Homo sapiens: one gene and its partner. The protein of the gene in region 1 interacts with the protein of each later gene in a pairwise test. Each region holds a gene or a part of one and is shown on either strand. Other genes may lie near its edges.

What was found.
Region 2: the proteins of NDUFV3 (region 1) and PHYHIP interact in a two-hybrid assay, tested with the Homo sapiens proteins (one large-scale study listed by BioGRID and IntAct).

Annotation. Positions count from the first base shown.
Region 1 is NC_000021.9:42,906,553-42,910,363, reverse strand, and holds part of NDUFV3 (NADH dehydrogenase [ubiquinone] flavoprotein 3, mitochondrial isoform a precursor), read right to left. Parts: intron 3,525-3,811; coding exon of another isoform or gene 3,462-3,524; intron 1,501-3,461; coding exon 1,343-1,500; 3' UTR 1-1,342. UniProt on the Homo sapiens protein: Accessory subunit of the mitochondrial membrane respiratory chain NADH dehydrogenase (Complex I), that is believed not to be involved in catalysis. Complex I functions in the transfer of electrons from NADH to the respiratory chain.
Region 2 is NC_000008.11:22,221,883-22,225,693, reverse strand, and holds part of PHYHIP (phytanoyl-CoA hydroxylase-interacting protein), read left to right. Parts: intron 1-477; exon of another isoform or gene 478-1,252; intron 1,253-1,350; coding exon 1,351-1,468; intron 1,469-3,806; coding exon 3,807-3,811. UniProt on the Homo sapiens protein: Its interaction with PHYH suggests a role in the development of the central system.

The DNA of each region.
Region 1 (3,811 bases):
TGCAGTAGTTAAAATTAGTAACATTCCTGTTCCTTTTTTTTGATTGAGTTTCACTCCTGTTGCCCAGGCTGGAGTACAATGGCACGATCTTGCTCACTGCAACCTCCGCCTCCCAGGTTCAAATGATTCTCCTGCCTCAGCTTCCTGAGTAGCTGGGATTACAGGTACCCACTAGCATGCCTGGCTGATTTTTGTATTTTTAGTAGAGATGGGGTTTCACTATGTTGGCCAGGCCGGTCTCAACTCCTGACCTCAGGTGCTCCACCCGCCTCGCCCTCCCAAAGCGCTGGGATTACAGGAATTATCCACTGCACCTGGCCAAAACTCCTGTTTCTAATGATCAAAAACCAGGGCTGTAGGATTAGAAGTCACTATTACTGGCTGGGTGCAGTGGCTCACGCCTATAATGCCAGCATTTTGGGAGGCTGAGGCAGGTAGATCATGAGGTCAGGAGTTTAAGACCAGCCTGGCCAAGATGGTGAAACCCCATCTCTACTAAAAATACAAAAAAAATTAGCCAGGCATGGTGGCGTGAGCCTGTAGTACCAGCTACTCAAGAGGCTAAGTAAGGCAGGAGAATCACTTGAACCCAGGAGGCGGAGGTTGCAGTGAGTTTAGATTGTGCCGCTGGACTCCAGCCTGGGAAACAGAGACTCCATCTCAAAAAAAATAAAAGAAGTCACTATTACATTATTGATACTCAGCTGATAATCAGTTTAATGCGAAATTGACTAGGCTGAGCACAGTAGAATCACACCGCTCTAAAGCACTTAAAATTCTCTAATTATATGGATTTGCCCAGTGATTCATAACCTTAGAGTTTAAGAAAAATTCCTTGCACATAGTAGATATTCCAAAATATATGTTGGATAATCAGTGTTACTGTTGCTAATTCACCACTCACTGTAAAAAGTGTGAAAGTGGCCGGGCGCAGTGGCTCACGCCTGTAATCCCAGCACTTTGGGAGGCGGAGGTGGGCAGACCATCTGAGGTCAGGAGTTCGAGACCAGCCTGGCCAACATGGTGAAACCCTGTCTCTACTAAAAATACAAAAGTTAGCTGGACCTGGTGGTGAGTACCTGTAATCCCACCTACTTGGGAGGCTGAGGTGGGAGAATCACTTGAACCCAGGAGGCGGAAGTTGCAGTGAGCCGAGAATGTGCCACTGCACTCCAGCCTGGGTGACAGAGTGAGACCCTGTCTCAAAAAAAAAAAAAAAAAAAAAAAGGTAAAAGTGAAACCGATTATGCACAGCGGGCCTTGTGACTCTTGAGTGGATTTTATTTTTGCACTCCAGGATGCAGTGAAGACGGTGGAAGGTTCATCTTCACACCGAGGGCCCTCAGTGTCGAGGTGACTCCCGGCCTGAGGAGGGCTGAGGCATCCTGAATTTTGAGAGTTCGAGGTTGAGGTCTAAGAAGGTGTACGTGCTGTAGTCATGATGCTGCAGGTTCTTGTAGGTAGTGTTGTCAAACGGCTCAGCAGGCACTGGGGCTGGCTCTGCGGAGGAAACACGATGCCCATGAGACCAACACAAGGACAGCTCTTTATGAATGACTCGGCTCACACACAGGCGCTTACCTACCAAGCATTCTTCATCATCCCTATCTGTGAACAGCTCTTTATGAATGACTTGGCTCACATACAGGCGCTTACCTACCAAGCATTCTTCATCAACCCTATCTGTGAACAGCTCTTTATGAATGACTCGGCTCACACACAGGTGCTTACCTACCAAGCATTCTTCATCAACCCTATCTGTGAACAGCTCTTTATGAATGACTCGGCTCACACACAGGCGCTTACCTACCAAGCATTCTTCATCAACCTATCTGTGAACAGTTCTTTATGAATGACTCGGCTCACACACAGGTGCTTACCTACCAAGCGTTCTTCATCAACCCTATCTGTGAGGAACAAATTGTCTAATTAAAAAAGAAAAGCCTACAAAAGCCACAGTAAAGAAAAAGAAAGATATTACTTGGAAGTTTATTCTAAAACATACAGCCTTCCAATTTAAGAAATGGAATAGTTATTACAATGCGTTTTTTTTTTTGAGATGGAGTCTCACTCTGTTGTCTAGGCTGGAGTGCAGCGGTGCGATCTCAGCTCACTGCAAACCTCCACCTCCCAGCTTCAAGTGATTCTCCTGCCTCAGTCTCCCAAGTAGCTGGGATTACAGGCGTCTGCCACCACGCCTGGCTAATTTTTGTATTTTTAGTAGAGACGGGGTTTCACCATGTTGGCCAGGGTGGTTTCGATTTCCTGAGCTCAAGTGATCTGCCCGCCTCGACCTCCCAAAGTGCTGGGATTACAGGCGTGAGCCACCATGCCAGGCCATACAACGTGTCTTAACATCTTAGTTTGTATACTTCTAGGCTTCTCAAAAGTTTGAAAATGCCTAGAACAATTATAGCAGGACTTTCAGGTAACTTAGAGATGCATGATAAAATCTACCTCTATTAGAAATCTGGGCTGGGCATGGTGGCTTACGCCCATAATCCCAGCACTTTGGGAGGCCGAGGTGGGAGGATTGCTTGAGCTCAGGAGTTCTAGATCATTCTGGGCAAAATAGTGAGACTCTGTCTCTACAAAGAATAAAAAATTAGCAGGGGCCAGTAGCAGTGGCTCACACCTGTAATCCTAGCACTTTGAGAGGCTGAGGCGGGCAGATTGCTTGAGGCCAGGAGTTTGAGAGCAGCCTGGCCAACAAGGTGAAACCCTGTCTCCACTAAAGTTACAAAAGTTAGCAGGTGTGGTGGCATACTCCTGTAATCCCAGCTATGTCAGGAGGCTGAGGCACAAGAATTGCTTGAACCCAGGAGGCAGAGATTGCAATGACCTGAGACTGCATCACTGCACTCCAGCCTGGTGACAAAGTTAGACTCTGTCTCAAAAAAAAAAAAAAAAAAAAATTAGTAGGGCATGGTGGCACACCTGTAGTCTCCAGCTACTCAGGAGGCTGAGGTGGGAGGATTGCTTGAGACTGGGAGGTGGAGGTTGCAGTGAGCTGAGATCACATCACTGCACTCCAGCCTGTGGGACAGAGCACGTCTGTCAAATAAAAAATTTTTTTTGAAAAGCTTAAACTAAAGGAGCCTTCTGAATCTCTGATACAAGAAAATTAGATAAATTCTAATAACAACAACACAGCATTTAAACATTTGGTAATTCGAAACTACAAGTAGGGGTTGAGGCAAAAGAAGTACTGGTCTCCTGCAGCAGGACACACAATATAACATAATGGCAAAATCAAAACCAGCACGGGAACACAGGCTGATATTTGGGTTAAGATTTGTACTGACTCAATTTCTGTAAATCAGGTCATTAGGTCTGTCTTAACTTCCATTCATGCTCCACAAAAAAATAACCTAAATACATTTATTTTCTCACTATTTCAATTAATATCAAAAGCTCTGTTTTTCATTTTTAAGTTACGTTAAGCAAAAACGATGTCTCATTTAAAGAGCTGGCATCCTTCCAATCTCCACAAGGTGAGTATCTTCGGTGTGGTGTAGGGACACCTTCAAAGCAGAACGTACTATTTTAGTTACTATAGGGAGGGTGATAACTGACCAAGACGTGGGTTACAAAACTCTGATCTAAAACCACTCTACCTGGAAGGCCAGTACTGGGGCACGGACTGCCTAGTGAGACCGCGGCCCCATACAGACACGGCTCTGCAAGGTGGGCTCTGCGCATGCGCACAGAAGATAGTTAAGAAACAACACACCCGTGAAATATTAGAACTTTCTCTTCAGAAAGGTTTGCAGTCTGAAAACTCCCAATTCTGTTTTTATCCTGCGAGTTG
Region 2 (3,811 bases), on another chromosome or scaffold:
AGCTGGGATTACAGACGCCCACCACCATGCCTGGCTATTTTTTTTTTTTTTTTGTATTTTTAGTAGAGATGGGGTTTCACCATGTTGGCCAGGCTGATCTTGAACTCCTGACCTCAGGTGATCTGCCTGCCTTGGCCTCCCAAAGTGCTGCGATTACAGGCATAAGCCACCATCCCTGGCCTTTTTCATTTTTATTTTTTGAGACAGGGTCTTGCTCTGTTGCCCAGGTTGGAATGCAGTGGCATGATCATGGCTCACTGCAGCCTCAGCAACCTCCTCCCCACGAGCCCAAGCCATCCTCCCTCCTCAGCTTCCTGGCCTCCTGAGTAGCTGGAACTACAGGCACATGCCACCATTCCTGGCTAATTTTTGATATTTTTTTGTAGAGATGGAGTTTTTCCATGTTGGTCAGGCTAGTCTCAAACTCCTGGGCTCAAGTGATCCCAAAGTGCTGGGATCACAGGCGTGAACCACTGCTGCTGGTTGAGTGGTGTTTTTTCTTAGCTCTGCTGCAGAACCCCACTCTCTGGAGGCCTCTTGCTCCTGGTGGGGAAAGCTTCTTGGTTTACCCCTGAGACCTCCATGTGCAGTGGGCATTTAATTCAAATTGGAGATCTGGCTGCAATCCAGTCCACACTCCTCTCTCCAAACCAAGCACCCTGGCCAGGGATGCAGCCACAAAGAGGGAAGGGCATCTTCTAATTTGTACCAAGGAGCTGTATGTGCCAGCAGCAGCCTTGCTGGGGCCCCAGGGTTCAATGTTGCTATCCTGTTTCCAGCCTTCCCTGTTTCTCCTGAGATGCTCAAGCTGAGAGCCATTGCTCCAGACCCAGGACTGCCTAAACATTGCCTGGGCTCAGTTCTCCCTAGACCCTCACGAGCCGTCACCTGTAATTACAGCTGGCTTCCATGGGGGTGGTGTGGGCAGCCTCCTATCTACTGTATTTGAGAGACTTTCCCAAAAGGACCTCAAGCCCTCCCGTCTCAAGTCTTCCTTTTTCCCAGGGGTCCTCTTTTCACATGAGGATGGCCTGGGATCACAGCCCCTGAGGACCCTGGCAGGATAACTGGGCAGCCCTCTGCCTTTTTCTGACCCGGAGAGCCCGGAGCCTCTGGCAATGTGGTTGCAGAGGTGATGACGACAGACAGTATGCAGCGCTCTGTGTTTCCAGCAGAGGCCAGCTGGCCTGTTCCCATCTGAGTTTAAGGTTCTGCGACTGTCTAGTCTCCCCTGCTGCTCTGGCGGACAGAGGTTGGCCGGCACACACAGTGTGGGGTGGGGTGGGGACAGGAGGTGTTTGTGCTCCTCAGCTGGCCCTCGGCTCACCTACCGCATCTGGGATCTTGCAGATTATGCCAAGGAGCACCTGGCTCAGCTTCAGGAGAAAGCTGAGCAGATCGCAGGCCGCATGCTCCGCTTCTCCGTCTTCTACCGCAACCATCACAAGGAGTACTTCCAGCATGCCAGGTATGGGCGCGGGCTCCCGGCTGGACCCGCCGGGCCTCTCCTCCCTCCCAGCCCTTCCTGCTCCTGTCCTGGCTGTCTGAGGTCACCCCCACCCTCGTGGCTGCCAGTCCCTCCTCTAGGGTTGACATGTCCTGACGTCACCAGGCTGGCTCTGAAGAGACTGCTACTTTGGGGATTGGGCTCAGGGAAGATCAAGGGCTCTGGGGACAGGGCCTTCTGCAAGAGTGTTGTACTAATGAGCCTGGGAGAATGAGGTCTGGGTTTGCTCCCACTCTGGGACAGTTCCTTTCACAGGGGTCTACCACCACAGGTCTCTCCGATTCAGGCCCTGGGGCCAAAGGGAAGGTGGCAGGGAGTGCACAAAATGAGTGTTCTGATCACAAAGGGTTCGAGGAAGCACCCAGCTCGTCGGTTTTCAAACTGGGTGCTCCCTCCAGGGAGACATGTCAGTGAACCCCTTAGAATGCTGCCATGGGGTTGGGGGGACCAGAGGTTGAGGCTTGGTGGGCCCCACACCTGACCTCCAGTCAGAGTAGCCTCAATTTTATTTGCCTGTGACCCTTCCACGTATAATTTCTTTTGGGGATAAAAAGAGAGTTGCTGCAGTCCAAAAGTGTTTGAAAATTGGTGATCTGATCCAACACCCTCAGCCTACAGAAGAGGAGCCTGAGGCCCAGAGGGAAGCACTTGTTCATTCGAGCCAGGGAGTCACTTGTTACTGAGGACAGCCAGGACCAGGCAATGTGAGGCAGGACCAGGAGTACCCACCATCCCCGGGCCTGCTGGCAAGTGCTCCAAGGCCGCATCCTTCTGAGGCTCAGCCAGGGCAAGCAGCTGCTCTGCCTTTTTTTTTTTTTTTTTTTTTGAGATGGCGTCTTCTCTGTCACCCAGGCTGGAGTGCAGGGGCGCGATCTCTGCTCACTACAACCTCTGCCTTCTGGGTTAAAATGATTCTCCTGCCTCAGCCTCTTGAGTAGCTGGGACCACAGGTATGCGCCACCATGCCCGGCTAATTTTTGTATTTTTAATGAAGTGGGGTTTCACCATGTTGGCCAGGCTGGTCTCAAACTCCTGACCTCAGGTGATCCGCCCACCTCGGCCTCCCAAGGTCCTGGGATTACAGGCATGAGCCACCACGCCCGGCCTCTGTCTGTCTTTATCCTTACAGTCAGGGCAGTTTTAACCTCAGGGCAGTGAGGACCTTGGGAGTCTTTGGGGTTTGTATTAAAGAAGCAAGGCCTGCTTGGTGGCTCAAGCCTGTAATCCTACCACGTTGGGAGGCCGAGATGGGATCTCTTGACCCCAAGAGTTCAAGACTAGCCTGAGCAACATAGTGAGACCCCAGCCTCTGCAAAAAATTTAAAGAATTAGCCGGGTGTGGATTGCTTGAGCCCAGGAGTTCGAGCTTGCAGTGAGCTGTGATTGCACCACTGCACTCCAGCCTGGAAAGCAAGTCAGTGGCCCAGTTTGGGCTCCTTTATCAGCGAGAGTGGGAGAGATAGAGAGCACTCATGGGTGCCAGGCACCTTACTTGGTGCCAGGATGTAAAGATAAAGGCACAGTTCACTCTTTTGAGAACCTCAGAATCCAGTCAGAGAGACAGTATGGAAAGATTTCATGTAAAAAGTACGTGTAATTGTTGAGCACAGTTCAGTGTCCTGGCCAGGTGAAGTGGCTCACACCTGCAATCCTAGCACTTTGGGAGGCTGAAGCAGGAGGATCACTTGAGGCCAGGAGTTCAAGTCCAGCCTGGGCAACATAGTGAGAAGATTGGGTGTCCTGCACATAGTAGGAAGCCAAAAATTTGTCAAGTGCAGGTGTCTGCTGTTCCTGGGAGGTTTTAGAGGGGAGCAGACGCTTGACTGAAGCTTGAAGGCTAATTAGAAGTTTGCCAAGCCAGACGGAGGAAGGTGGAGAGGGCAGTCAGTGCAGCAGAGGGAAGAGTCCTGCATAGGGGTCACGGAGGCAGGAGACTGTGTGTGCAGGGGGTGGGTAAGTGGATGGGGTGGCAGGAGGTGGGGAGTGGCAAGGAGACCACAGAGATCAGATCATGAGCCGCCGTGTTTTTCACACACACCCCATCAAAGGGTTTCAAGCTGGGGAGTGACAGCTTCATATCTCTTCTCTGAGAAGGAGTGGGCTGGTTGAATCCCTCTCCAGGGCCCTCCCTGCTCTTGCATTCTGGAATGTTCTATTTGCGACTAGTGGAGGCGGCTGGGGGAGGGCTGGGAGCTGGGCTGGCTTCCTCCCTCCTCGACCACACGCAGCAGCCAAGCCTCAGCCCGGCTCACCAGCCACATCTTCTCTTCCCTTTGGTGTGTCTCCCTGGGGTGGGCAGGACCC